3 linked regions of the Homo sapiens genome follow. The protein of the gene in region 3 interacts with the protein of the main gene of each other region in a pairwise test. Each region holds a gene or a part of one and is shown on either strand. Other genes may lie near its edges. The genes, in order: OCLN, BNIP3L and CLEC7A.

Evidence for each region.
Region 1: the proteins of CLEC7A (region 3) and OCLN interact in binary tests that used the Homo sapiens proteins (3 or more experiments, as listed by UniProt).
Region 2: the proteins of CLEC7A (region 3) and BNIP3L interact in binary tests that used the Homo sapiens proteins (3 or more experiments, as listed by UniProt).

The regions. Positions count from the first base shown.
Region 1 is NC_000005.10:69,486,502-69,498,220, forward strand, and holds the start of OCLN (occludin), read left to right. Parts: upstream 1-6,288; 5' UTR 6,289-6,399; intron 6,400-8,524; exon of another isoform or gene 8,525-8,914; intron 8,915-11,719. UniProt on the Homo sapiens protein: May play a role in the formation and regulation of the tight junction (TJ) paracellular permeability barrier.
Region 2 is NC_000008.11:26,404,968-26,415,760, reverse strand, and holds the end of BNIP3L (BCL2/adenovirus E1B 19 kDa protein-interacting protein 3-like), read right to left. Parts: intron 7,762-10,793; coding exon 7,658-7,761; intron 7,535-7,657; coding exon 7,385-7,534; intron 5,398-7,384; coding exon 5,349-5,397; 3' UTR 2,634-5,348; downstream 1-2,633.
Region 3 is NC_000012.12:10,116,277-10,124,418, forward strand, and holds the end of CLEC7A (C-type lectin domain family 7 member A), read right to left. Parts: intron 7,088-8,142; coding exon 6,969-7,087; intron 2,315-6,968; coding exon 2,182-2,314; 3' UTR 501-2,181; downstream 1-500.

The sequences.
Region 1 (11,719 bases), on a different chromosome or scaffold from region 3:
TATTGGTTTCACACTGACCCAGTTCAAGAGATTTTTCTAGGGTTAGGATTCCTTATGCTAAATTACGAGATAATTATTATTATCTTTTTCAGTTTGGGGACACAGGAGGTAAAGAGCCCCATGAAGTTAAAAGTAGGTAAGCGAAGACAATATTTGGTTAATGTTTACTTTTTCCTCTTTCCTTTTTTGAGCTTAAAAGATTCAGGAAGGCTAGTTCCTGAAAAAGCCTGCAAGGCCAGTTTTCCACTGCAATAGATGACTGATACAATTAAAAAAAAGCAGTCCCAAATCTCTTTCTCTGTATTATCCTTATAATTGTGCCAATATTCTGTCCCACACCAAACCCATTTACTCTCTCTTTAGATGCTGATCTCAACTTACTCTGATCCTATGAATGTATTTTCTGCTGGTATTTGAAAAATGTTATTCACAAAACAAAAATCCTAGATGTGGATCTCCAACTATTTTCTAAGACTGTCTCTAAACCCTATTCTTAGCAAATTTTGGCCGGGTGTGGTGGCTAACACCCGTAATCCCAGCACTTTGGGAGGCCGAGATGGGAGGACTGCTTGAGCCCAAGAATTTGAGACCAGCCTGGGCAACATTGAGAGACCTCATTTCTGTTTATTTATTTGTATTTATATTTATATATTTTTTAAGACAGAGTCTCGCTCTGTCACCCAGGCTGGAGTGCAGTGGCGCTATCTCGACTCACTGCAGTTTCCACCTCCTGGTTTCAAGCGATTCTCCTGCCCTAGCCTCCGAAGTAACTGGGATTACAGGTGCTTCCACCACGCTGGGCTAATGTTTTTTGTATTTTTAGTAGAGACGGGGTTTCACCATGTTGGCCAAGCTGGTCTGGAACTCCTGACCTCAAGTGATCCACCCGCCTCCGCCTCCCAAAGTGCTGGGATTACAGGCGTGAGCCACTGCACCCGGTCTGATCTCATCTTTATTTAAAAACAAAACAAAACAAAAATCAGCCAGTTGTGGGTGCGTGCCTGTAGTCTCAGCTACCCAGGAGGCTGAGGTGGGAAGATCGCTTGAGCCCAGGAGATAGAGGCTGCAGTGAGCCATGATCATGCTACTACACTCCAGCCTGGGTGACAGAGGTGACTCAAAATAATTTTTTTAAATTATGAAATACAAAATTCCTACAAAAATGTATATAAAACATATGCACAGCTTGATAAATTGTTGTAAGGCTAACAGCCGTGTAACTTGGACTCGGGAAGAAACAGAATATTGCCTATATTGCCTATAGACAAAAAGTAGTCCTAAAATATAGTAAAACTGTTCAGAACATTGGTTCAGGAATCAGATGACCTGTATTTGAATCCTGACTCTACAACTTAGTAGACAACTTGAGTAAATGATCAATACTTTCTGAGCTTTAGTTTTCCTATGTGTAAAATGGGGAAAATAATAGTACATCATAAAGTTCTTGTAAAGACCAAAAAAATAAAAATAAAAACCCAGCCGGGGCCGGGCGTGGTGGCTCACGCCTGTAATCCCAGCACTTTGGGAGTCTGAGGCAGGCAGATCACCTGAGGTCAGGAGTTTGAGACCAGCCTGACCAACATGGAGAAAGCCCGTCTCTACTGAAAATACAAAATTAGCTGGGCATGGTGGCTCATGCTTGTAATCCCACTTACTCGGGAAGCTGAGGCAGGAGAATCGCTCGAACCTGGGAGGTGGGGGTTGCAGTGAGCCAAGATCGCGCCATTGCACTCCAGCCTGGGCAACAAGAGTGAAACTCCATCTCAAAAACAAACAAACAAACAAACAACCCAGCCGGGCACGGTGGCTCAAGCCTGTAATCCCAGCATTTTGGAGGCTGAGGCGGGTGAATTGCTTGAGGTCAGGAGTTTGAGACCAGCCTGACCAACACAGTGAAACCCCGTGTCTACTAAAAATGCAAAAATTAACTGGGCGTGGTGGCGGGCACCTGTAATCCTAGCTACTCAGGAGGCTGAGGCAGGAGAATCGCTTGAACCTGGGAGGCAGAGGTTGCAGTGAGCTGAGATTGCGCCATTGCACTCCAGCTTGGGCAACGGAGCGAGACTCCGTCTCAAAAAAAAAAAAAAAAAAAAAAAAAAACCCAAAAACCAGAAAAAAATAAAAAAAAACATAAAACTGCCGGGCATGGTGGCTCACCTCTGTAATCCTAGCGCTTTGAGAGGCCAAGGCGTTAGTATCACCTGAGGTCAGGAGTTCGAGACCAGCCTGACCAACAAGGTGAAATCCCATCTCTACTGAAAATACAAAAATTAGCCAGGCGTGGTGGCAGGTGCCTGTAGTCCCAACTATTCAGGAGGCTGACATAGGAGAATCATTTGAACCCAGGAGGCGGAGGTTGCAGAGAGCTGATCACACCATTGCACTCCAGCCTGGGCTACGGAGGAGACTCTGTTTCAAAACAAACAAACAGAAAACCAAAAAAACACTTAGCATAGTACTTAGAACATGTTTTTCCCTGAGTAAATGGTGCTATTATTATTCTTCCACCTGTTGAAGTTCCTGTTCAGGTGCTGAGTCTCTTTGTTTAAATATGGATTCCTCCCAGGAGGATCTTGCTTAACACATAGGAATAGAGAAGATAAAGGTTTACTCATCTAGTGTAATCATCCTTTTAGAAATTGTCTTCCTAGTGGCTTCCCCATAAATTCTTCCATACACCTGTCCAAGGAAACTGTCCTGTGTGGACCAGAAGCCTCCCCCTCCTCATGACTGGGCAGAGAAACTAGAGGCCTTTCAGGCCAGGCCCTCAGCAACTCCAAACTGAGTTGCCTTGGACACATACCAGTCTTTGAATTCATTTACTAAGCAGGCAAGGCAGAGTGGAAACAGTGGAACTATGTTAATCTCCCGTCTTTTCTCCTCTAAACCCTAGTACTAGAGATGTAAGCCTTGAAATGCTACTAAGGAACGTGCGGGTTTCACAATAGCAGGAGGCCATCTGAGAGGAGGACAAGACTCCACAGGCATGTTGGATTTGGGAAGCAGGGCTATAGTCATTCATTCATTCATCCAACACATAGTTATGTAATTCCTATGTGACAGGAACTATTTCAGGCATATAGGATACAGCAATGGCTTGCTCAATTTATTGAGACTTGTTTCGTGGCTCAGCATATAGTCTGTCTTGGTGAATGCTCCACATTCCCACCAACAGACTTATAAAGACAGTATTGTTTATTATCATCTCAAATTTACGGTGGAAAAAAATGAACCTTACATAGTTTAATTTCCTTTAGTCCTACCCAGCTACCAAGTAGCAACACTGGAATTTGAACTGAGATTTCTGACACCATAATCTGAGCTCTTAAGTTTCTCTTTTACACATAGAAAAGGAGAAACAAATTGTCTTTTCATCTTATCCATTTGACTGCAGGTAAAGTCAACAAGTTTCTAATCATGGGGTTCTGAAAATAATATTTACATTGCTCTGAGTCACGGGGATTTTCATCAAATAATATTCAATAGTGGATACTACTCAATACTACTGTGAGTTGCCAAGAAGGAATATTTGGTAAAAAATATAGTAATTAAATTTTGCTATAATTTATGATTATGTAACATGATTAAATTGAGCATGGCATCATTTAACATCCAACAAATTTTGTTTTGGTATTGAAGAATGATGTGTTTAAGTTTTAAGGCTGGATTTTCTTTCTAGACACTTTCAACTATGAAATATACACAATATTGGACAATAGTTAACCGTTCTTTTGATGTTGTTGTTTAGAAAATTAATCTCAAGCGAATAAAATAGAATTCATACAATTAATGAATCCTATTATTCCATATGGATGAACTCAGAACTAACTAGAAAGTAAGTTTCACAGAGATTTTTGAGTTTTGTTCACTCGTGTGTGTACAGATTAGGCACTCAGAAAATAGTTGAAGGAATGAATTGGGAAAGCAAATAGAATATGAAAGCCTTCTACCCAACACAACATGTCTTTGAGTTTAGGTTTAGGGTGGGAATAAGAAAAATAACATGATATGCATAAGTTATCTTAAAATGATAAAAAGTTTAATTTAAAAACCTAATTTACCAAGAGAACCGAAAACATATGTCCACACAAAAACTTGTACACAAATGTTCATAGTAACATTATTCATAACATCCCCAAAGGAGAAACAACCCAAATGTTCATCAACAGATGAATGATTAAACGAAATGTGATACATCGATACAATGGAATATTATTCAGTTATAAAAAGGAATGAAGTACCAATACATACTACATCATGGATGAACCTTTAAAATATTATGCTAAGTGAAAGAAGACAGACACAAAGGGCACATATTGTATTATCCATTCATATAAAATGTCCAGAATAGGCAAATTAATAGAGACAGAAAGTACATTAGTGGTTGCCGAGGGATGAGGGGAGAGGGGAAATGGGGAGTGACTATTAATGGGCATGGGGTTTCTTTTGGGGGCGATTAAAATGGAATTAGATGGTGGTGATGGTTGTACAATCTGGTGAGTATACTAAAACCCACTGAATTGTACGTGCCCTTTAAAAGGGTGAATTTTATGGTATGTGAACTCTCTTTTATAAAGTGGAAAAAAACTCCTAAGATCTCTTCAGAACATGTCAAAATACATTATAAAATAATAGACATGTGTTTACAAATCTGAGAGTATTAGGAAATGTTCCCTTGTTTAATTATAAACCAAATGGAATGTTTGGAGATTTCAGTAATCTGACAGGGAACATTAAGGGGATTAACCTGACTTCCCCAGTGTTAACAATACCAATTTAAACTGCATCATTCAAAAACTACATAGTCATATTAAAGCATTTGTAGCAATGACTTCCACGAAAAAAATACCAATTAAATTAATTACCCATTAAAGCTGCCATCATCTGAAATACCTCATATTTATATAGTGCTTTTACTTCCTCAAGTATGAATTGTGCCTTAAGATCTAATGTATGGGAGAGTCACATCTCTAACCATTTAATTAAAGGTAGAGAAGTGGGTGGGATTGGATAGAAATTTATTAGCAATGCTGACATTCCAGATTGGAACACAAAGACAAGCAGGATGTAAGAAACCTAAAAGTTCGCTTTCAATGCAGATAGTTAAATGCCAAGAACTATAATTGCCACATCCTGGAGTACAATTAAAAAATATGTTGAAAAACAACCAACATACATAAAAATATACACAGTGTTAAGTGCAGACTATGAAATTTCCCTTGGAAACAGAATCCAGATCAAGAAATAGAATACAGCACCCGGAACTAAGGTGCTTTTTCGTTTTCTTAAAAAAAAAAAAAAAGTAAACCAAGTTTATTTTGCTTTTTAAGTAGTGTTGTTCTTAAAGCACTACAGGTTGGTAAACAACGTATAAGGTGCTTTTTCTCAGGCCAAAGAGCCATAATAGTTTAAATTTCCCGGTCCTCAAGAGCGGACCGGGTGGGCAGGAGAGGACCCTGGGGTGGTGATGTGTAAACTGTATTATGCACTTTAGCCTGCTGGATGGCAACTAACACCTACAGTAGTTCACCCTCATTTTAACCCCTCTAAGTAATTGTCTCTTATTCTGAATCTAGAGATTCAGAAACAGCGCCAATGTTTACACACGACTTTTGAAATTTTCCCAGGAGTCTTTCGTTGGAGCAATACATCTAGATGCCTTTTTCCAGCAACAGTTTAATCAAATTCTGGAAGCAGAAAAGTGTCCTGTGAGGACGTGCCTTTCCTATCAAAGTGCTGAGTGCCTGGACCCTCTTTCCGGAGGAAACAGTCCCCTCTGGACCTCGTTCGGCCTCTCTCCATCAGACACCCCAAGGTTCCATCCGAAGCAGGCGGAGCACCGAACGCACCCCGGGGTGGTCAGGGACCCCCATCCGTGCTGCCCCCTAGGAGCCCGCGCCTCTCCTCTGCGCCCCGCCTCTCGGGCCGCAACGTCGCGCGGTTCCTTTAACAGCGCGCTGGCAGGGTGTGGGAAGCAGGACCGCGTCCTCCCGCCCCCTCCCATCCGAGTTTCAGGTGAATTGGTCACCGAGGGAGGAGGCCGACACACCACACCTACACTCCCGCGTCCACCTCTCCCTCCCTGCTTCCTCTGGCGGAGGCGGCAGGAACCGAGAGCCAGGTCCAGAGCGCCGAGGAGCCGGTCTAGGACGCAGCAGGTGGGACTCGCGGCGCTGGCCCGCAGGCTTCCCGCACCCCCTTCCACGTTGGTGCGCATGCCCGGGGGCAGGGCCGGTTGTAGGGAGGAGGGAAAGGAGAGGGAGAAGGGGGAGGAGACGTCCCCAGCCCAGTCCCCGGCTGAGCGCTGGCGGTCGGTGCGGCGTCAGGTGCGCCCGCCAGGTGAGCGCGCTCCCTGGCACCGTTGGCCCCCGGAGGGTCGGGCCCAGTTGCGGCGAGCGGGTGAGTGTTGGGCGCGGCGTCAGGGGCGCACGGGAGCCCGAGGGTCCCCGTGGGGGGACCGCGGCGACTATGTTAGGGGAGGTGCCGGGGGGAGGACGCTCCGCGCTGGTTTCGGTGGCAGTTTCGTCCCCGAGCTGGGACTCGTGGGAACCAGAGAGGCGCGGGTCTGCGGAGAGAGCAGCACCGGCCAACTTGGGAGGCTGCCTCCTGGGGCGAGGGGTGGCTTGGAGCCGCCGATCAAGCTTTATTCCGCGGAAACGCTGAAAGCTAGCAGTGCCTCAGCGGCGCGGGCAACTTTTCACTTTTATGGGGCACGACATTCCTGAACAGCGACGATCCTGCATCCGCTCTGGGGCTGCAGTTTGGGGGGGCGGCCTTCATGGAGAGGGATCCTGCGCCCAGCTCCTTGGGGGTCCTAAGCCTGAGGCTGCAGCGAGGCGGCTGTTCGGCGGCCCGGGCGGCTTAGATCCCGGGGGGAATTTCATTCCTTCCGCTCCCACCCCACCCCTTTGGATATCCCGGGGAGACGGGGGCTGGATTCAATCTGTGAAATATTCCAGGAGTCACGGTGTGGGCCACACTGGCTACTTCGAATCCACTTGTTGCGAGTTGTGTGAACCCGCGTCGATTTAAGCTGGGGGGCGGGGAGTTAATTTCGAGTGAGGCTGGACTTCGAGGGAAGCTGCTCACGCTTCGGATTCTCATCCGTGACCAAAAGGGCTGCCCCCAGGGGGGCGGAACTGCCTCCGGGCGGTGCCTGCCCGGCGAACGTGGGCGCGCGCTGCCTGGGAGCGCCTCGGTGCGCACGGAAGCCGGGACCCGCGCCCAGCCGGGCCACGGAGTTTGGGGACCTCCGGGACTGGGCCGGCCCCGCGCGCCAGCCATGTTGCCTGCGTCGGAGGAAGCGTGCGGGGAGCAGGGGTCGAGGGCCAAGATGGCCTCTGCGCCTAGGGGTTGGGAGCGGCGCCGAGCCCCTCGCGCTCCTCGGGAAGCCACCGGGCCCGAGGGAAAAGCCGCGGCATCCTTAGGCCGGACCCGGGGCTCGCTGGCCACACTGCCCGCTTGGGGAATTACCCTGCTCGAGGAGGAGGCGGCGGCTTTCCAGGCCAGTCAGTGTGTGGCCCTTAGGCAACAGGTGTATTATTGGGATACCTGGAAAAGAGAAACGTTTCCCATGAAGGCACTTATGGTGTTTTTTGGTGATTCTTGGTGTGATAGAAAACTAGGCGTTCCCAAGTGTAACAATAGTAACAGTAGTTCTTTTGCACTGTACATATGAGGTGCTTGTGTGTGTGTGTGTGTGTGTTTTTCCGAGACGGAGTCTGGCTCTGTCCCCCAGTGCAGTGGCATCATCTGGGCTCACTGCAACCTCTGCCTCCCGGGTTCAAGCGATTCTCCTGCTCAGCCTCCCGAATAGCTGGGATTACAGGCACCCACTAGTATGCACAGCTAATTTTTGTATTTTTAGTAGAGACAGGGTTTTGCCATTTGGTCAGGCTGGTCTCGAACTCCTGACCTCAGGTGATTCGCCCGCCTTGGCCTCCCAAAGTGCTGGGATTACAGGCGTAAGCCACCACACCCAGCCTTTATGAATATTTTCTTAGTGGTGCTTTAAAATAGACATCTTAAGTGTGTGTGGGAGGCAGAGATATTTCCTCAAACAAAGCAACACTTTTTTTTTGGTCGTTTTGCAATTTATTTAGTTATTAGGGGCCTCCTTTGTTAGGTGACGGAGCAGAGGATAGGGAGATCGGTAAGACATGATTCTCCACCTTTTGGCAGTTTCCAGGCCATTTCGGGAAATAGTGGGCAGCAGTGCCTCCTGCACGTGAGGCACTGTGGTAAAAGCATTCTGTATTTTCTCATTTAATTATCCCAACAACTCTAAAAGGCAGGCCTTAGTAGAACTCCATTTTAAAAGTGGGCAAATGCCGTGGGGGAAACGTTGCAGGTGGGCTTGCTTGCAAACTGCTTCAGCTAATATGGGAAGGAGTATCAGAAGCAGCGGTCCTTGATATTCCAGAACCAGATTTGGGGAATTTTTCTGGACTTTTCTACCATTGACTAGTAACTGTAGCCTGATACAAGATTTCCCGCATTTTGCTTGATATCAAGGTAAAATTCTTGTTTTCTTCTAAAGGTAGTGTTGGAATTACTACCTTTTCAAAATAGTATATTACTTTTAACCACATAAATGATCTGATGTAATATCTTTCATCTTCCTAGGAACCTCCCAGAAGGAAGTTTTCTTCAGTTGCATTTTAAGGCTTATTTGATTGGAATATTAATGGATCTTTTTCATCAAATTACTATTTATGGAAATAAGAGAGTAAACAGACCATGCAGATTTATGTTAGGCTTTTTGTTTTAACCCCTAGGCTTGCCGCTGTTCCGTAACCCAGTGATTCCAGTCTTGGCTGTGGTATGAATCACTTAGGGATCCTATTAAAACACAGATTCTGATTGGGAGGTCAGGAGTGGGGCCTGGGATTCTGCCTTTCTAACAGGCTCACAGGTGATTCTCAGACTGTTCTGTCTTCTTTTTCTCCCTTTCTCTTAGACTCTACGCACTTAATTACATTTGACAAACTGAAGTTGGAAAAAATAACGTTTATTGAGTGTTGTGTGAAGAACTTCAAGGCATTCACTGCTGGATTGAAATCCCAACTCTAATAATTGACTGTTGGTTTTATTAATTGAGTACTCATTGACAATCACTTTGTGCCAGGGCTAGTTCCAGCGACCAGGGATATAAATGATGGTCAAAATAGACATTTGATGTCTGGGATATGGGCATTCCAGATGCGGTGGAGATGATACCTATATTTTAGGTATGAGGGCAGAGGGGAGTTTGCTCTGAAAAAAAAAACAAGTTTTGTGTGATGGAGTGAGGGACAGGGAGGGCATCTCCCAGAAGGTGACGTCTGAGCTGAGACCTGAACAGCAGGTGTCTGTTGTGTAAAAGATCTGGGCTTTCTAGACAGGAAATTGCAAGATCAATGTCCTTTTTGGATTGACACCTTTATTGTAGACAGCAATTCTCAAAATATGTGATGTGTTTAAAAATCACCTGGAAGATTTATTAAAAATACAATTTCTGACACAGAGTCTATTACAAAATCTGCCTAACTTCAAATTTTTAGACAATTTACTAATGATGTGCCTGTAGTCTAAATCATTTAATATAAGGCACAACTTAAACTTTTTTTTTTTTTTTTGAGACAGAGTCTCGCTGTCTCCCAGGCTGGAGTGCAGTGGCACGATCTTGGCTTACTGCAAGCTCCGCCTCCCGGGTTCACACCATTCTCCTGCCTCGGCCTCCCGAGTAGTTGGGACTACAGGCGCCTGCCACCATGCCCAGCTAATTTTTTGTATTTTTAATAGAGGCGGGGTTTCACTGTGTTAGCGGGGATGGTCTCGATCTCCTGACCTCGTGATCCTCCCGTCTCGGCCCCCCAAAGTGCTGGGATTACAGGCGTGAGCCACCGCGCCCGGCCACAACTTAAACTTTTTAAAGGCAAATTGACAGTTACTGCATGTGCTCTAAAAGGAACAGACTTCTCTTAAATACAATAAAGTTTATTTTTCACTTATTGACAGTTTTCTTTAAAGAATAATTTGAGGCCAAAGCATTTTCAGACTATTTTTTCTTTTTTTATACTTTTTTTTTTTTTTTTTTTTTAAGATAGATAACGGAGTCTTACTCTGTTGCCCAGCCTGATCTTGAAGTTCTGGGCTCAAACAATCCCTCTGCCTTGGCTTCCCAAAGTACTGGGATTACAAGTGTGAGCCACCTTGCCCAGCCTCAGCCTGTTTTTTTCATCTTAGCTTAGTTTTCCATTAAGACAGCTTTTGGTCAGTAAACATTGTCAAGGGGAGAACACTTTATATTTTATCATTAGCCCAAGATGCTGGTTTTCAGATTAACATATTTGACAAGGATCTATCTGCTGCTTCCCTTTTGCCCCCGACTCTAATTTAGCTGTCTGACTTCTGTCCTTGTCACTCTCCTGACATAAGTTCCTGTAGGTGATAAGTGGCCTCTTCATTCTCATTTTTTCCTTCACTCAACACATGTACAGATTGTTAATGTTGCTGTGCTGGGCATTGGTCCTCTTTCACCTTTGGCTGCTGGCCTTAAAGCACAGTCACAGATTCACTTTGAAAGAGACCTTAGAAGTCTTCCAGTCTGGTCTCCAAAAAAATATCAAATAACTTAAGCTTTGCATAAATTGCATGAGCTCAAATTGTTGTTAGTTATTTTCGGAGAGGGTGTGGGGTCAGGGTGAGGGAGAGGCTTCCTAACATTGAGATGAAATCAGCCTGTGGTTTTTGGAATTTTTTTTTTTTAACCATTTCTAGGATAACAAAGACAGCTCTTCATATATTTCAGGGCTGCTAAAGCGATTCTTCTGACGTTAAGTTCTCCAGGCCAAACATTTCCTGTTTTTCCAATCATTTGTCTTAAGACATGGTTTTTCTAGATTTTTTTTTTTTTTTTTTTTTGAGCCAGAGTCTCACTGTGTCGCCAGGCTGGAGTGCGGTGGCACAATCTTGGCTCACTGCAACCTCTGCCTCCTGGGTTCAAGCAATTCTCCTGCCTCAGCCTCCCAAGTAGCTGGGATTACAAGCACACACCACCATGCCCAACTAATTTTTGTATTTTTAGTAGAGACGAGGTTTCACCGTGTTGGCCAAGATGGTCTCGATCTCCTTGTGATCCACCCGCCTCGTCCTCCCAAAGTGCTGGGATTACAGGCGTGAGCCACGGTGCCTGGCCAGCTTTTCTAGATCTTTAATGATCTTAGTCACCCTCCTGGAGAGGCACATAGTTTAGAATGTGATGTACAAATCAGGTTTTGTTTGTTCTTTTTAATAGCATATTATTCCTAGATATGAGCACTATTTCTGTGAATAAAGTTTGGGATAGGTTGTTAGCTTTTGTTGAAATTCTTACCAAAGAAATGCACCTTTAAAAATGAACCACTTTGGGAGGCCGAGGCGGGCGGATCACGAGGTCAGGAGATCGAGACCATCCCGGCTAAAACGGTGAAACCCCGTCTCTACTAAAAATACAAAAAATTAGCCGGGCGTAGTGGCGGGCGCCTGTAGTCCCAGCTACTTGGGAGGCTGAGGCAGGAGAATGGCGTGAACCCGGGAGGCGGAGCTTGCAGTGAGCCGAGATCCCGCCACTGCACTCCAGCCTGGGCGACAGAGCGAGACTCCGTCTCAAAAAAAAAAAAGAACGATTATTAAATTAGTTCTCCTCTATACTGTACTATGGAATTGACTTTTTAAAAATTCAGTTTATGGCTGGGCA
Region 2 (10,793 bases), on a different chromosome or scaffold from region 3:
GCAAAAACATCAAGAATGGGGCCCACTGGCTTCCTGAAGATTAAGTTTTGAGATGTGGAATCTCAGCTCACCTAAACCCAGAATTTAGATTTTTTTCTCTGCATTCTGTTCCATTATCTTGGTCCATTTACATTTTTGATCCACTACCAAACCTAAAGTAATATTTATAAAATGTCCATAGTGTCTATTCCTCATTCACCCATTCTTTTTTTTTTTTTTTTTTTTTTGAGACAGGATCTCGCTGTTGCCCAGGCTAGAGTGCAGTGGCACAATCATGGCTCACTGCAGTCTCAACCTCCTGGGCTCGAGCAGTCCTCCCACCTCAGCCTCCCAAGTAGCTAGGACTACAGGTGTGTGCCACCATGCCCAACCAATTTTTTGTATTTTTTGTAAAGATGGGGTTTTGCCATGTTGCCCAGGCTGGTCTTGAACTCCTGAGCTCAAGCAAGCCTCCCGTCTTGGCCTCCCAAAGTGCTGGGATTACAAGCATGAGCCACTGCACCTGGCTCCCACTTTTTTTAGACACGGTGTTGCTCTGTCACCCAGGCTGGAATGCAGTGGCACAATCCTAGCTCACTGCAGACTTGACCTCCTGGGCTCAAGCAATTCTCCCTCCATCAGCTTCTGAATAGCTGCAACTACAGGCGTGTGCTACCATGCCTGGTTAATATTTTTTAGTAGAGAAGGAGTCTTCCTATATTGCCCAGGTTGGTCTCAAATTCCTGGGCTCAAGCGATCATTCACCCATTCCTAATCCTGCTTTTTACCCTGAACCATAATTTACTAACAGCAACTGCAGAATTAAAAGGTCCACAGAGAGCACCTCGGGCAGCCCCTTGGCTTGACACAGGAGACAGCTGAAGCTCAAAGCATCATGTCGCCCAGGCTGTGAAGCAGCAGAGCCCAGTCCACCTGCCTGGTGCTTCTGGCTGCACTGGGGAATGAAGGCAGGAGCCATTGTAAGGCTTTGAGGATTTCAGCATTAGTTCCCGTCTCCTTCCAGAGGAGATACTGATGGGAAACAGCTCTGTCTTCCTTCAGCATCGACCACCGCCTCCTCCTCAAACATGGAGAAAGTGGAGCCACCAGACAGGGGTTTCATCACTTTCCATTTCTAACTCACCCCTTCTCATGTCTTCATTTCCTGTCATCAATGTCTGGGTTTTGTAAACTCCACCTTTCTAAGGCTCACCCTCCCTGAGTGCTTAATTACATTTCCTTCCTCTCCGGGAGGGAGTACGTCCCACTCTTCCATTACTGATCTGCTCCCTCCGTAACGCTAATATCTCCCTTTGCTCTCTCTCCTTAGCCTACACATTGGCCCCTCTATATTCCCAACCTAAGCCAACAATCCTACTATCCTGTCTCCTCTTCAGAAACTCCCCCCTTGTTTTCTTAATCATGAAGTTTATTCAAAAAAGCCAACACTTCTTGCTATTCATTCATTGACCCAACACAATCTTATCCAGGATCCCTCTTTCACTCCTACAGAAAATGCTCTTGCAAAGATCAGCACAGATCTGACTGCCATATTCCAAAGCTTCTCGATTCATCTTACTTAACCACGAAACATGTCAGGCTTGGTCACCTCCTACTTTTGGGGTTTCTGTGATACCAACAATTTCACCTAGAACTTCTCTTCTGCTTAGCCTTCAAATTTTGGGCTTCCCTGTTGTTTGAGTAACTTTCTTCCTTGCCCATTGTCCAATCTTTAAACATCATATAAATATATAATGCATGGGTCTGATTGTGTTTTACTTCCACTCCAGACCCTTCTCCTGGGTTATAGTTCTATTTAATAAGTGTCCAATCAGAAGGCCCTCAGACATTTCATGTTCAACGCACTCAAAACTGAAATCCTCCCTCTTTGCTCCTACCACCCCATTTCTTCTCCTGTCCTCCTTTAACTAATGGGATCAACCCATGTTTTCGGGCCACACACACAAAGGAATACACACGCCTTCGTCTCTAAGTCACTTTCTGACCAGTTTACTTCCGCTTTGTTTCTCATACGTATCCTGGCCCACCACTGCCAACCTCAGGGTGACAGCCCAGGACAGGCCCTAGCTCCTCGCCTAGAGAACTGATTGATCTCCTCTGGTACTCTCTCACCAGATGGCTTGACTGTCTAAAATTTACATCTTAAATCACCTCCTGGTTTAAAAGAAGTAAACCCAGCTAACTATATGATGAAGTGTGACCCCTGGGAGGGCACACACATTTCAATTAGGTTCAGTACTAACCTACATTTTTCAGTTTCCTCTGTATCCATCCTGTTTTCCAGGCACGTGGAACTTCCAGTTCCTTCTGGATCCACTTTCACTGGTGTCCCACTGTCATTTCCATCAGGGCACACTCTTCTTCTCTCCTGTACTTCCTGAGCACTCCTCCCGTGAGCGCCCTCCTGCCACTACCTGGAGGCAAATGCTCTGAATGCCACAGTCCCGAGGCACTCACGAATGCTCACACTGCGGTGACTGTCCCCACAGAACACCGTTCACACCCTGAGCACTGTTAGGAACTCCACTGCTGGGGAAGCCAGATGACTGGAAGGCTGTGTGTAGGCGAGGAGGCCTCATCGCCTGAAACTCCCAGGCAACAGGTGCGACAGAAAAATGATATACTGACAGGAAAAGTTTTGTGAGAGCTTTAATGGCACAAAATGTTTATAGCTACAAGTTATACATGTATTGTAAACTGTATATAACGATACAAAGTGCTAACTAAAATAGATGAAGAATGCATAATCACTTTGGCTCAGTTAATTCCAATAATTTCCACAACGGGTTCATGAAAAAACTTATCTGACTGGCTAAGTCTTCAATTCTCATTTTTTTAGAATAGTAAATATTTTTACTGCAATCACGGGAACTTGTTGCACTTTCCAATGTGCAAGTTTGTGCAGTTTTGCTCTTGATTCTATTTACAAACATCTTGAGCCAGTTTTCATCAAACATATGAAAAATGAAGCCTGCCTTTTTGTCCCCAAATTGTAAACAGGTGTAAAGCTTTTTAAACATTAACCTCACAATTTCAACTATTAATTGTTGAATTCTCCTTTCCAAACCACAATGTTTTCGTTCAACACAAATCTGGGTGTAGCAGTAAAACGTTCATCCCATGTGTTAGGGCTACAGATACATACTACATGCTCTCATAATAAATTCTACTGTGATGATGTATTCACGTTTTAAGTAATTTTCCATAATTTCACTGATGCTTTAAGAAAAAGGGCAACACTATGTTTCTTTTTAACGCTGAAAGAAATCATAAATATACCCAGTTTCAGTGGCACCACTGATAGAACTGCTGCTGAACTTGGAAAGAGCACAATGCACTAGCTGTAAGAAGTCACTTTCAGGTAAAGTGTAATTTTACTTTTCCCCCCTGTAATACCAATTGTAATAGAAATTGCATACTGTAGCAGTTTAGCTAGTCAGTTCTCCTAACTTTCCAGTCTTTCCAATTTTATTCAGGCTTTTCAAAAATCAGTGAGCCATCAGATTTACTTTCTTCCCAAAGAAATTCAAATATGAACACTTGAAATAAATAGGTTATAGAAGGCAAATCAAGTGTTACCAGGTTTAAGAGTAAGACAGAAACATGGTCTAGGAAAAAGATGTCCAAAATTATTTAGACATCAAATGCTAGAAAGAAAAAAGAAAATTACTTTCAAAACTAGGATATATCATCTTTCTTAAAGATAGCCAGCTATATTCTTGAAAAAAGATAAAAATTTTGTTTAATCTATATGTTATTTTCCACTATAACACATCAATTTTACAAATGTTGATGTGAGAAAAGAGTTAGTTTCTGCAAACTGGCAAACCTGTCTGTCATAGTGTTTTTATTCAAGTTGACCTGGTGCACTTTATAGATTGCTAGTTTTAAAATTAACAACGGTTCTCTAAATAGTCAATATCAATGTCTATATCATAAACAGTAATTATTTATATATAAAACATGTGGTATCCTTCAGAGTCATGCTAGATGTTCTGAAATCCAAGAAAATCTACTCGAGATAACTGGTCATCCTGATGCTTTCTAACAATTTGGTCCTAAAGCTTCACATTTTAGAAATGAACGAACAAGTATATCACTGAAGGAATCTGTTGAGTGTTCTGAACTTTAAGAGTTTACCATAACTGAAAAGACAGCTACATGAGAAAATGACCAGTGCCTGCAGTCGCAGGAATCACCTTGGGAAGACTGTACAGTAAACATTATTCAGTGAGAGATCAGAAGGAAACAAATGGCATCTTTTCAGAACGCTGTCAACTGTTCCCACAACCCAAGTCTGTTTTTCCAAGTTGCACAAGTGCTTGGAATAACTCTGAAACAATTCTCTTCAGAGTTTAAAGGCTTCAGAGTATAGGTGATGCTTCCTAAAACAAGAAGCCTGTATTAACATCACAAATTGGAACTCATTCCAAAGCCTCTTCTTAGAGAAAAAAAAATAAAGAAATAAAAAATAAAAAATGTAAAGAAGGTCATGAAAAATTCACATGCAGCTAATTATCGTAAAAAATATCAAACACACACGCAAAAATCTCAAAAAGCAATTTCATATATTTCTAAGCCTGAGACGTTCCTTATCAGAAAGAAAGATTCTACACCATAGAAAAGACAGCATTACAACATACTAGTATGAAAATCTGCTGATGTATTTTACTTCTTATTCTATTTCATACCTATCATTTATACAGTTTGCCTCCTATAAATTAAAAGACGCTATTAGGAGGCTTAGACAAAAAAGTGGCTCCAAAGCTGGTTTAAAATATTTTTTTTATTGCCCAGGATATTTTTTTGTTGTGCCTTGCCTTTTTTTTTTGTTTTGTTTTCTTTTTAATAACTATCAACTCAAACTTAGGGAAACTTGCCTTTGTCTTGGGGGAAAAAAAACAACTAGACAATAAAGCTTCTTTTACATCATTTGCTAACCTGATCTCGTTTTAAGAGAGAGATGGTAGTTATGTTGCAAGAGTAAAATTTATACCATGAATGATACAGGTCTAGTCTGGTGGCACTAATTAGAGATAATAGCATTGCTGACAAAATTATAATCTGCTGGTGGCATTTGCGGAAAAGAAGCCCTTGCAAATTTCTAAACAACAGTAAACTCTGTTAGGAAATTCTAAAATGTCTTCAGGCCAAAAAGGGTATAAGGTTAGTAAAATGCCTCAACAGAGTTTGAATAAAATATTGAATTTGAGAGTTACTGGAATTGGATATGTAAAAACAGGGTGGTAGGTTGGGTCATGCTTACAATGGTCTCAAGTTCAAATAAGCTACTGTGACAATACACCACTTCACAGGTCACACGCATTTCCAGGGGCTTTTCCTTTCCCTCAGTAGGTGCTGGCAGAGGGTGTGCTCAGTCGCTTTCCAATATAGATGCTGAAAGGAAGCAGAAGCATCATGTTTCACCTGTTTCAACAGTTCTATACCAGCTTGTCCACAGGTTGAACTCTACTTAAAACTCTTCAGTCTTTGTAAAAGGCTCTAAAGGTTTGTGGGTACCGCTCCCCAAACACCGTGAAATCATCACTGACTTTCTTAAAACCAGTCACCAGCCCGGCCAAACTGGTTTTATATGAGTTTGTTTACTCATTAAATATCGGGGCTCGACAGCAAAGGGGTAGTGATTAGACAAAGTAAAGCCAGAGAGAACAGATCCCTCCACAGAGTAAATAAAGCAGCCCAACTCCTTCAAGATGTTCCTCTTTGGTGGACAGAAGGTTCTACTGACATTTCAGACACAAAAATATAGTAATATGTGAAATTATTCTGGTGCTCTATGTAGGACAAAAGAAAAAAAAAACCTTAAAAGCTGCCAGTGCTTTAAAGACAGCTCTTACTAATAACTCCTAAGGATTAGGGGCCTTATAATACTTTTTCATGCCAAGAAAGTATTTGGCCTCTTCAACAGCAAAAGCAGAAGGGAAGTTAAGGAAAGTATGTAACTAGCTTCACCTCCAGTGCAATTAAAGCAACGAACTTTTTAAACACTCTTTTTACATTCATCTATAGCAATAGTTATACTTACAGCCAAGACAAACAATCTGAAGATGACTGAAAGAGAGACGGCAAGGTATAGACACCAATCGCTTAAGGGCAATGAACTGCTGTATAGGCAGCAATGTATTAAACTCCTACACCTGCCCCACATCAACCCCCACGCAACAGTCACACAGTCCCCTTCTGCACAAACCCCTTCTAGGTTGCTGTTTGTTGATTACTGTCCTTGCCCTCACAAAAGCAGATCAAGCACCCAAGAGAGACAAGACGGGTGTGTGGAAAGCTGTATGCAAGTTTCTGAGGTCGTGACTAAGAATCTCTCTCCAATATGCTGAGCTCCTTAAAGGGAAGAAAAAGGATGACCCCATCTTCTGCATATCTTATACTGAAAATGACCCACTGGGCATGCTTAGAGCACAACATACGTCTTGAAAAAAATTAACAGCTACTGTTTAACTCCTAAAATCTTTCAGAAGTGTAATTCCTCAATTGTTTAAATCAAGGAAAAAAAGCAATTTATTTAAAAGATGTGGCTAAGAAACTAATGAATTACACGTAAATATGAGGTTGATTTTAGCAAAATAAATGAAAATACTACAAAGTTAAAAAAGGAAAAAATTAGCACCAATCAACCTACCAGTTTCATTAAAAAAAACTATTCAATGTAATCATGTATTTTCCCATATGAAAAAAAGGTATTTGCACTGACCACAAAATGTACATGCTAAAGATTAGTTTAGTTCATAAATTACTCAAGATTAAATATTACACAACAAAACCCAAAAAGAAAAATCAATCACAGAGGAGTCCGCTTACATTTGATCATTTAGGGGATTATTATGAACATCTTCTTTTTTTTTTTTTTTTTTCCGAGATGGAGTCTCACTCTATCCCCCAGGCTGGAGTGCAGTGGCATGATCTCGGCTCACTGCAATTTCCGCCTCCCATGTTCAAGCGATTCTCCTGCCTCAGCCTCCCAAGTAGCTGGGACCACAGGCATGTACCACCATGGCCAGCTAATTTTTGTATTTTTAGTAGAGACCGGGTTTCACCATGTTGGCCAGGCTGGTCTTGAACTCCTGGCCTCAGGTCATCCACCCATCTTGGCCTCCCAAAGTGCTGGGATTACTGGCATGAGCCACCACACCAGGCCAAACATCTTATTTTCAAATAAGAAAACACACTCTACTATTATTAAAAATGCTTATTTGTAGAACAATTGTGCACCCACTTTTTTAAGTTCACCTTATTTGCACTAAAACATTGAAAGTAAAGCAATAAAAACTGCTTTCACATACATTTCTTCAATCTGAAAATAAGAGGATAAAATGAATGGAAAAAACTTCAGGAGTTGACCGGTACTTACCCTAGCCCCAAAGCCAAAACATGAGAAAGGAAGAGAGATGGAATGAACACCTTCAGAAATTCTGCGGAGAAAATACCCCCTTTCTTCATGGCTCCACTTTTCCTCATGCTTAAAGACACAGAACGTTTAGGGTGTCTGAAGTGGAACTCCCTGAGAAAGAAATTCAGAGGCAGATGTCATTTGCTGAAAATATCGTGGGGATTACCAGGCCCATTGCCTGTAAGCGTGCGCAGATCAACTGTGTCCACTGACAAGAAACATGTGAGAACTCACTTGGGTGGAATGTTTTCGGGTCTACTGGACCAGTCTGATACCCAGTCCGCACTTTTCTTCAAAGCCTCGACTTCCTTCTCTCCTTCTACAACTTCTTCTTCTGACTGTAAAGAAGAATTCAAACTTTAAGAAAAAAAGGAAGACCAATTCCTCCTAATACAAAGAAAAATCTAGACAGAAAAGATACCAAACTCATAAGGTTGTGTCTCAGAAATTTTAGATAACAAACATGTTGCTTTTCTAAAAAATGCTGAAAAATAATGTAAGATCAGAGTATGTAATATCTTCAGAACAACCTGAGTGAGCTTCACTGTTGGGATATCTAAGCACAGCACAGGAACTGCATAAGACTGTACTTTGGGATGTAATGCTAAGGGAAGTATGAAAAACCTCGATAAGAGTTAAATCTGGGCAATACTTACATGGAGGTCCATTATATTATTCTCTCTTGTATGCACTTAAAATTTTCGTAATTAGGCCGGGTGCAGTGGCTCATGCCTATAATCCCAGCACTTTGGGAGGCTGAGGCAGGCGGATCACTTGAGGTCAGAAGCTGGAGACCAGCCTGGCCAACATGGTAAAACCCCGTCTTTACTAAAAAAAAACACAAAACTTACACGCTGGGTGCGGTGGCTCACGCCTGTAATCCCAGCACTTTGGGAGGCCGAGGTGAGCGGATCACAAGGTCAGGAGATCGAGACCATCCTGGCTAACACAGTGAAACCCTGTGTCTACTAAAAATACAAAAAAATTAGCTGGGCGTGATGGCGGGCACCTGTAGTCCCAGCTACTCGGGAGGCTGAGGCAGGAGAATGGCGTGAACCCAGGAGGCGGAGCTTGCAGTGAGCAGAGATCGCGCCACTACACTCCTGCCTGGGGGAAAGAGCGAGACTCCGCCTCAAAAAACAAAACAAAACAAAACAAAAAAAAATTAGCCGGGCATGGTGGCGGGCACCTGTAATCCCAGCTACTTGAGAGGCTGAGGCAGAAGAATCGCTTGAGCCTGGGAGGTGGAGGTTGCTTGAGCCTGGGAGGTGGAGCCGAGATCCAGCCACTACACTCCAGCCTGGGTGATAGAGTGAGATTCCATCTCAACAAAAAAAAGAAAAAAAAAAATTTCATAATTAAAAAAATAAAAGGAAATAAAAGGATATGCTAAAAATAAAATGATGAGAAGTAAAACAAAAATAAGTGAGAGATGTGATGAGGAAATAAATAATAGTATTTATTGAGCACTTAAAGGGGCAAATATTATTCCAAGCATGTTACATGCATTTTTTTTTTTTTTCTGGAGACAGGGTCTCCTGTGTCACCCAGGCCAGAGTGCAATCACAGCTTACTGCAGCCTCGAACTCCTGGGCTCAATTAATTCTCCCACCTCAACCTCCCAAGTAGCTGGGACTACAGGTGTGTGCCACCACGCCCAGCTAATTTTTGTATTTCTTTAAAGAGACAGTGTTTCACTATGTTGCCCAGCCTGGTCTTGAACTCCCGGGCTCAAGGGATCTTCCCTGCCTCAGCCTCCCAAAGTGCTGGGATTACAGGTGTGAGACACTGCACCCAGCCACATGCATTAACTTTCACCTTGCAACAAATAACCCTATAAAAATAATTATTAAAATCCCATTTTACAGATGAGGAGACTGAGACATAGATTAAATAACTTGCCTAAGGTTCCACAACCAGTACATAGCAGGGCCAGTATTCAAACCCAGGAATACTGTATAGAGAGGCCCTACTGTTAAGCACCAGGGTTTACTCTCTGGAAGGAGATTATATTTTTAGGACAAATTGCTATACAAACATTTTCCAAGGTTTCGAAACTATGTTAGCCAAAAGTTTTTGGGAATAATCTATAATAAGTTGAGTCAGAATTTAACATGTGTCATATCAAATAAAATAAAAAATGTGACTTTTAAAAATTGCTTATTATAACCTAAAGTTTCAGGCCAAGAACAATTAACATTTCCAATAGCTCCCCTTTTAATAGAACCAAAAGGAATGAAAAAGTCCTAAAAATGATATTTATTTATTCAGTATTATTTATTCAGTTTTCTTTTTGAGACGGAGTCTCGCTCTGTCACCCAGGCTGGAGTGCAGTGGCGCGACCTTGGCTCACTGCAACCTCTGCCTCCTGGGTTCTAGCAATTCTCCTGCCTCAGCTTCCAGAGTAGCTGGGATTACAGGCGCCTGGCACTACACCTGGCAAATTTTTATATTTTTCGTAGAGACGGGGTTTCACCATGTTGGCCAGGCTGGTCTCGAACTCCTGACCTCAAGTGATCTACACGCCTCAGCCTCCCAAAGTGTTGAGATTACAGGCGTGAGCCACCGTGCCTGGTCATAGTCAGTTTTAAGGGATGTCATGCTATGATCCCAAACCCAGGGGTCTCAAAACTAAGAAGCATTTTGACATTTTATTTTGTTTGACTAGGATTCACTCAAAAGAATGACCAAAGCTGTCATTCTTTTCAGTAGGTAGCTAAGAAATGCAGAGTCTGACATATTCACATGACTCTTGACAGGTCTAGTTCTCTGTGAAACAGCTACCCCAGGAAGGAGCTTCAGACAGGGCAAAGTAAAACCCCTGTGCGTTCTGCTGCTCTTGTTAGTACCAATCTTATCTAGTTCTGCTGAACTTGGCAAATTCCACTGAATGACACAATGTAGCATTTAGGATTAAGCTCCTTCCATTGGCTATTGAGATTACTCAGAATCATGAGTTGGCTCTTTGGAGTAACACTGAAATCATCCCAAATCAAAAACAATAAACTGTTACAATTTACTTGCACATCAGTTCCTGTACACACAATATCTGACTATACTCAACACACTGCAGGTCGCTTCTGTTTAGTTTCCTGCTTTGGCCTCACAGATCTTTCTTTAAACCTGCTCAAAGATTTAACAAGTTAATATTTCATAATTTCTGACAGAATGAAACGCAGTAAGATTTCACGCTCTAATTTTTTTTTTCATGAGGATGGAATTTTCTCAGTTGAATGAAGCAAAGTTATCTCTGGACAAGTGTTTTAAAAAGAAAACAAAACAAAAAAGAACTCCATAAGTTTCCCAACTTACAATACTTTAAGAATAAGAGTGGTAAGCTTTCCTCATTCACTACCACTCTGTGCTTCCT
Region 3 (8,142 bases):
AAAATACTAGATATCTCTTCCAAACTCCATCCTATGCTTTAACTACTTAAAACAGTTAACCATACTCCTCATGTTCTCAGCCTGATCTATCTCTTCCCTTTCTTTTTTTATGTTTATTATACATTACATCATTTATTTATTTATGTATGTATTTTTAATTGTACTTTAAGTTCTGGGATACACGTGCAGAACGTGCAGATTTGTTACATAGGTATATATGTGCCATGGTGGTTTGCTGCACCTATCTATCTCTTCCCTTTCTACATGTTTTTAAGTAATGAAAACAAATTTGCATATTAAACAACAATAGTAAACCTCACAAAGATCTTTATCTTCTCTTAGGTTTTTAAAATTTTTAAGATCGCGAATTAATGCTTTAATATCAAAATATCTACTATAAATATCCACTCCACCCATACCAAATTCATCATCATTTTTGGGGAGAGGGCAAATTGTAATAGTGATTGTGACACACAGGCACATAATTTAGAGGCCATGGGTTTTTTGATAAGAGTTTTTTTTTATTGAAATGAAATCCACATAACATAAAATCATCCATTTTAAACTGCATAATTTAGTAAAATTGGTACAATTTCTTTTCACATATTAATCAACATTAGAGGACTGTAAATGCCTCCCTAGTAATACAGAAATATCCATTGGAAATAAAAATAGCACCAGTGGGAAAGTATGAAAAAAATAAGACAAATCAGCACATGAGGAAATATAGTTTCATTCCAATAATACCATTTTACAGTAATTACTGAAAAAAATGGTAAAAATTGTAAAACAGTACATCACAAAACTAATAAAACATATTCCAAAATGTTAATACTTGTTCCAATGAGGTTGGTTACTTTTTTATATTCATCATCAGATTTTATGTATTTTTATGTATTTTTGTATTTAAAAAGCAGAAAACTTTCCTATGAGAGCAGTTTCCCTACAATTACATATTATACAAGATTCTAGGCTGGGTGCAGTGGCTCACGCCTGTAATCCCAGCACTTGGGAGGCCGAGGCAGGCAGATCACTTGAGGTCAGGAGTTCGGGACTACCCTGACCGACATGGAGAAACCCTGTCTCTACTAAAAAAATACAAAATTAGCCGGGTGTGGTGGTGCCTGACTGTAATCCCAGCTACTTGGGAGGCTGAGGCAGGAGAATTGCTTGAACCCAGGGGGCGGAGGTTGCGGTGAGCCGAGATCGTGCCGTTGCACTCCAGCCTGGGCAACAAGAGCGAAACTCTGTCTCAAAAAAAAAAAAAAAAAAAAAGATTCTATTAGAGATATGGCAGATGTACTCTCTGAGCTATTTAATTGATAAAGAAAAAGTAGGAGTTCCTGCTTTTTACTAAGATGATAATCATAATTATGATCATACTGATGAAAATAATAAAATTGCTCTGACTGTGGTGAAGATTTTTTCCCATTTCTTCATTTAGCTATTCAGAAATATATTTCACCCTCAGTTCATAACTGATATACTGCTAGAAGTTGAGGGTCAAATCGTGGCAACACACCGTGCACTTCAATGGCATTGTTGAGCATGAAACAACTCTGATAGAGCCAGAAATTAAGATTCGCTTATGGCTTACCCAAGGTAAATGCCAAGTCAATGGCAGAATGAAAATTCAAGCTTGGGGCCAGGTGTGGTGGCTCACATCTGTAATCCCAGCACTTTGGGAGGCCAAGGCGGGCAGATCACTTAAGCCCAGGAGTTAGAGACCAGCTTGGTCAACATGGCAAAACCCAGTCTCTACAAAAAACACCAAAAATTAGCCTGGCATGGTGGCATGCACCTGTAGTCCCAGCTACTTGAGGGGCTGAGGCGAGAGATAGCTGCAGTGAGTCGAGATTGTGCCACTGCACTCCAGCCTGGGTAACAAAGTGAGACCCTATCTCAAAAAAATAAATAAATAAAAAATAAAAACTCAAGCTTGGCTGCCCTGATTCCATGTCTAGGGATCTACTAACTAGAAAAATAATACTAGCCTACCTGTAGGTCGACAAATACAGAAATCACAGCCTCTCCCTTCAATTTCTTGGTTAAGATTACAGTTGGCCAAGCTCTCTAAACATTTTCTGCATTTATCTTGACCTCAGCTGTTACTCTTTTCTGTTCTGTTTTCTGTCCTCCTTACTACCTCACATATTTCTCTCTCCTTCTCCACCCTTCCTCTTACATTGAAAACTTCTTCTCACAAATACTATATGAGGGCACACTACACAGTTGGTCATAAATGACTGACACGTGAATCCATACACAATTTGGAGATGGGTTTTCTTGGGTAGCTGTGGTTCTGATCTGAAATCTGTTAAAATAGAATACAGTGAGGTAATTAGAACAAATGTTAAGGAATACTGTCTACATGGCGCACAAATAAATTAGTAAGGATATTGGTGAAAAGAGTTCTGAAGTGTTTCTATTATTGGAAAAGGAGGCTTAAATCTAAATTGTTGTGAATCTCAAGTGGTTAAATGAATAGTCTCCATTATTAAGGCAGAAAAACGACTTAATTTTTTTTCAAGAACTGCTACTAGCTGCATAAACTAAAAAAAAAGTTCCTGACAAAGAAGAAAAATCATTTAATATTCTATAAAAAGTTCTTTATATATCTTTCAGCCTATTACTTAAATGTTTCTTTATCAAATCAAGTAACAGTTTAATTAAATTATTACTGGATATACTTAATGAGTAGACCAAGCAGAAGCATTAATGCTAAAACAGATCTAGAACTAAAAAGAGAATCAGAGATGCCCAGGCCATTTAAAGGCAGGGCAAACAACTCTGTATATTTTAATGTATCCTGGAAGCAGAATTATATTACAATACAATGCTTGACAGTTATGGAAATCAACACTGCTAAATGCAGGCATGGTCCTGTTCAGTTTGGTCTTCAATCTCCTTAAGTAGCAGTGTTAATGAGTCAAGCTCAAAGAGCATCACTGACCGTCAGTGCAAAAGCTATGACTTGGCACTCTTTGTCCTGGTTATGTATCTCTCCCTCTTGACCCTGAGGTTGGAAGATTGAGAAAACTTTGCTTTAGCGATGACTAAGGCTAAGATTAACTACTTAGATTCAGACCTCAGGGAGAACTCTGACCAGCATTATTCCTTAAAAATTTTCCTTGACCTATAAGTGTTTTGGGGGCATAGACACAGCTAGATTAAATAAATGCCACCCGGAAAACAAAAAAGTAGTAACATATCAAAATGTTAACTTGGGCCCACTTGTGATTATAGAAAGAGTCCTCTAGTCATACATTTAAAATAGCAAGAGAAAACTCAAGACAAACAAGTACTATAAGAAAGTAGAAAATACATTTGGCTGATAATAAATTCACTGTACTTAGCCTAGTAGAAGTAAAACAGTTAAGTGATTATGCTCAGCAGTTTGTACTGTTCACACTATTGGGTGAACAGACCTGGTGGTGAGAACAGAGGCAAATGAAAAAACACTTCAAATTAATTCTACAAAGATTTTAAGATAAAATGTTAACAACACTATAAAAAGCAATCTGACATAAGAGAAAACTAATCAACACAAAAGAAAAATAGTAAAAAAAAAAACAAACAGAAACAGATACATATAGAAAATTGGAATTATCAGACACAAGCTAAAACAACTATGGTTAGTGTATTCTGAAAGTTAGAAGACAATACTAAGAATGTTGGAAGAAAAAGTAGAAGTATACGTGTTGAAATAATAGATTTGAGAAAGAACTAAACTAAAATTATAAAACTGAAAATGTCACCAAACAAAATAAAAGACTTAATAGAGGCTTTTAATGGTAGATTAGCCACAGATGAGAAAAAATAGATGACCGGAAGATATGTGAAAGGTTATTACATAGATTGGAGCAAAAAGCTAAAAAAGAATGAAAACACAGGAAAAAGCAAAAGAAACATATAGGATGGTGTCAATGGGTCTGTAATGAATGTAACTGGGATTCCAGGAGAAGGGAAAAAAGATGGGGAAAAGCAAAATATGAAGCAAGTATGGCTGAGAATTTTTCAGTGCTGAGTAAACACATTAGTTTTAAAACATATATTACCTTCAAACAGATGACCTCTCAAAAACAACAGTAAAAAATAGAAAACAGTGGAATAATATATTTGAGTGGCTGAGAGGAAAAACAACAAACCTCTAATTCTATACTTACTGGAAATATCAGTCTTAAGAAAAAATACCTGTAATGTACAGTTGGAAAGGAAGAAAGAAATAAACAACTAAAATCATAAATATGTGGGCAAATTGAAATGAATACTAACTGCATAAATCTGTGCGCCACCTTGTCTGTCTAATTTTTATATCTTTTTTTTTTTTTTGTAGAGATGGGGTTTCACCATTTTGGCCAGGCTGGTATCGAACTCCAGAGATCAAGTGATCCGCCTGCCTCGGCCTCCCAAAGTGCTGGGATTATAGGCGTGAGTCCCCGCGCCCGGCCCAAGGGCTAGTTTTTTCTTTTTTCTTTTTCTTTTTTTTTTTTTTTAATACTGAGTCTGGCTCAGTCACCCAGGCTGGAGTGCAGTGGTGCGATCTCGGCTCACTGCAACCTCCGTCTCCCGGGTTGAAGCAATTCTGGTGCCTCAACCTCTGAGTAGCTGGGATTACAGGCGTCCACCACCACACCCAGCTGGTGACGCATAGCTGTAGTCCCAGCTACTCAGGAGGCTGAGGTGGGAGAATCGCTTGAACCCAGGAGGCAGAGGTTGCAGTAGGCCAAGATTGCCCCACTGCACTCCAGCCTGGGCGATAAAATAAAAATAAATAAATAAAAATAAATACATTAATATAATAGCATATAAATTGAGGAGAGAGTCAACAGAGTAAAGGAATGCTCTATGATTTTTATATTGGTCAGGAAGAACATAAAAATGTCAGTTAATGTTAGTCTTTGATGAGTGAAGTATACATGTGTAATTCCTAGAACAACTACTAAAAGATTAGTAAAAGAGATGTAAAAGACATGAAAGAGCACATTCCAAATGAACAGAAAAAAAAAACAGAATAAGAAAAAGTGTTAAATCGTCCAAAAAGGAGGAAAGAAAGGGGAAAAAAAGTAACAATTCTAAATCTTTATGTGCCTGATAACACGGCTTCAACACATCGAATAAAATGTTTACAGAACTGTAAGTAGAATCGCAGCGGAAGATTTCAACACAATTCTTTTCATATGGAAAGAGGAAGAAGCACGTAAAAATCACAGAACTACAAGCACGTGGAGCATGTTCTCTGATCACAGTGGAACTAAGCCTGAAACCTAAAACAAAGAGATAACCAGAAACACATATGTTTGTAAATTAAGAAATGCATTTCTAAATAACTCCTGGGTCAAAGAGCAGCTCACAGTGGAAATCAGAAAGTATTTTGAACTGAAAGACAATGAAAATACATTAAAATTATAGCCTTAAGTCTACATACTTGAGATAAAGGAAGGCTTAAATTCATGAGGCAAGCACCCAATACGAGAAGTTTGAGATGGAATAGCAAATTTAAAACAAATAAATTAGGTCAGGAGATCGAGACCATCCTGGCTAACACGGTGAAACCCCGTCTCTACTAAATATACAAAAAATTAGCCGGGCATGGTGGTGAGCGCCTGTAGTCCCAGCTACTCAGGAGGCTGAGGCAGGAGAATGGCGTGAACCCGGGAGGCGGAGCTGGCAGTGAGCCGAGATCGCCATTGCACTCCAGCCTGGGTGACAGAGTGAGACTCTGTCTCAAAAAATAAAACAAAATAAAATAAAAATAAATTAGATGGAAGGAAGTAATACAGATTAGAATAAAAGTTAATGAAAGAAATAATAAAAAGACAGAGTCAACAAAGTCAAAAGTTACTTTCTTTGAAAAACCAAATTGAACGGTACTCCTACTGAGACAGATGAAAAAACACACACAGGTGTGCACACACACACTAATAATAAGAACTTAAAAGAGACATATTTCATATTCTGCAGATATTAAAAAGCAAATGAATGACAACAGCAGTGACAGAAACCACATAATAAGGAATAATGTATCATCAGGCAAATGTGAAATACGTTTAAAATATCTTTCTAAAATGCAAAATGTGAAAATGTGGTTGCTTTTTAACTTAATAATAAGTCTCACACATTAACTATGTACAAGACACTGTGCTAAATTATTTTACTTTTATACCCATCTCACAATTCTAAGAGGAAAGCACTCTTTCTTTTTTTCTTTTTTTTTTTTTTTTTTTTTGAGTTGGAGTCTCACTGGAGTCTCACTCTGTCATCCAGGCTGGAGTGCAATGGTGCAATCTCAGCTCACTGCAACCTCTGTCTCCCAGGTCCAAGCAATTCTCCTGCCTCAGCCTCCTGAGTAGCTGGGATTTCAGGCAATGCCACCACACCCGGCTAAATTTTTAGTGGAGGTGGGGTTTCACCATGTTGGTCAGGCTGGTCTCAAACTCCTGACCTCAAGTGATCCGCCCACCTGGGCCTCCCAAAGTGCTGGGATTACGGGTGTGAGCCACCACACCTGGCCAAGAGCACCTTTCTATTCTTGTTTATGGAAAATGGGACTCAGAGAGGAAAAGTGACTTATCCCCAGTGTCACACAATCAGTGAGTGGGGTAATCATTAACCCAAACTGAGGCCTGGCTTCAAAACCCATGCTCTTAACCGGGGAGTTACACTGACTGACAGTGACTGCTCCTTGCCTGGACAACTTCAAACATGTCGATGCCTCCCTAGTAAGAAAACCAGAAGAATATCTGTGTTGATGCTACTAGATGGCCTCACTCTTTTTCACTCTAAGGTCCTCCTCATCTTTCTCCTCTTGTCCTAGTTCACTCTTTCTCTTCTTCTATATCTTTCTCCCTCTCTTTCTCATATATGGTGAGCAAATCAGGTTCTTAGCTGCTCGACAGAGGTTTTCATAGATGAGATGGAAACCTCTCTGAGAAAAAGGATGAAGCATTGTCTCTCCAAACACTTACAAGTTAGAAGAGAATGTTGATCCATCCTCCCAGAGCCATGGTACCTCAGTCTGGGGCCGAGAAAGGCCTATCCAAAATGAATTATCAGGTTGGGAAGACACTTGTTTTACTATAAATCCCTGTAATGAAACATATACAAATATATAATAAAGAGAGAGAGAGAGAGAGAAAGAAACTATTATCATGGACGCTGAGAAAAAGACAACTGATTGAATCACTTTGGTAAAGAATGCAAGGCCGGGCGCGGTGGCTCACGCCTGTAATCCCAGCACTTTGGGAGGCCGAGGCGGGTAGATCATGAGGTCAGGAGATCGAGACCATCCTGGCTAACAAGGTGAAACCCCGTCTCTACTAAAAATACAAAAAATTAGCCGGGCGCGGTGGCGGGCGCCTGTGGTCCCAGCTACTCGGGAGGCTGAGGCAGGAGAATGGCATGAACCCGGGAAGCGGAGCTTGCAGTGAGCCGAGATTGCGCCACTGCAGTCCGCAGTCCGGCCTGGGCGACAGAGCGAGACTCCGTCTCAAAAAAAAAAAAAAGAATGCATGCCTAACCTGACATCAACCTAGAGAGAAGTGCCAATTTTTGAATGTCATTGAATGTCTCAAAAGGCCTATCTTATTTATTTAAAGTAATTATCATTTAATTTTCCAAAAGAATAGATTTGTAATGTGAGGACTGTACTGCCTCCATTCAACCTATCTGACAAAATCCCAGATGACAGTCCCCCTAGGCAGTTTTCATGGATGATTAGCCATTGTCTTCTCCTCCAATTGAAGAAATAAATTGACGCTACTTTCGTTAAGAAGTACTTCTCAGAGTTAGGTAACAACTTAAAAATAATTTAGTCCAACTGTATATTTTATGAATATGTAATCTGAGGTTCAGTGAAGATATCTGAATTGTTTACAAATCTATAACAATTTATTTTCAATTATAGGCTGGCCTAAAAGTCAGATAGACTTGTAATCCAGTACTCTTTCTTTGCCATATATCTAGTTCCATTAACTTTAATATAAATTATTACTACTGGGTAAGACATTACAGAAACAAAAACAAAATAAGAATAGTGAAAGTAGGTGTAGAAGTTATAGACTGGTTTAGATTTATAACATAGAATTTTTCCTATTAACCCCTTATCTTACCTCATTGAAGCTCTACCCTTCATTCATGATG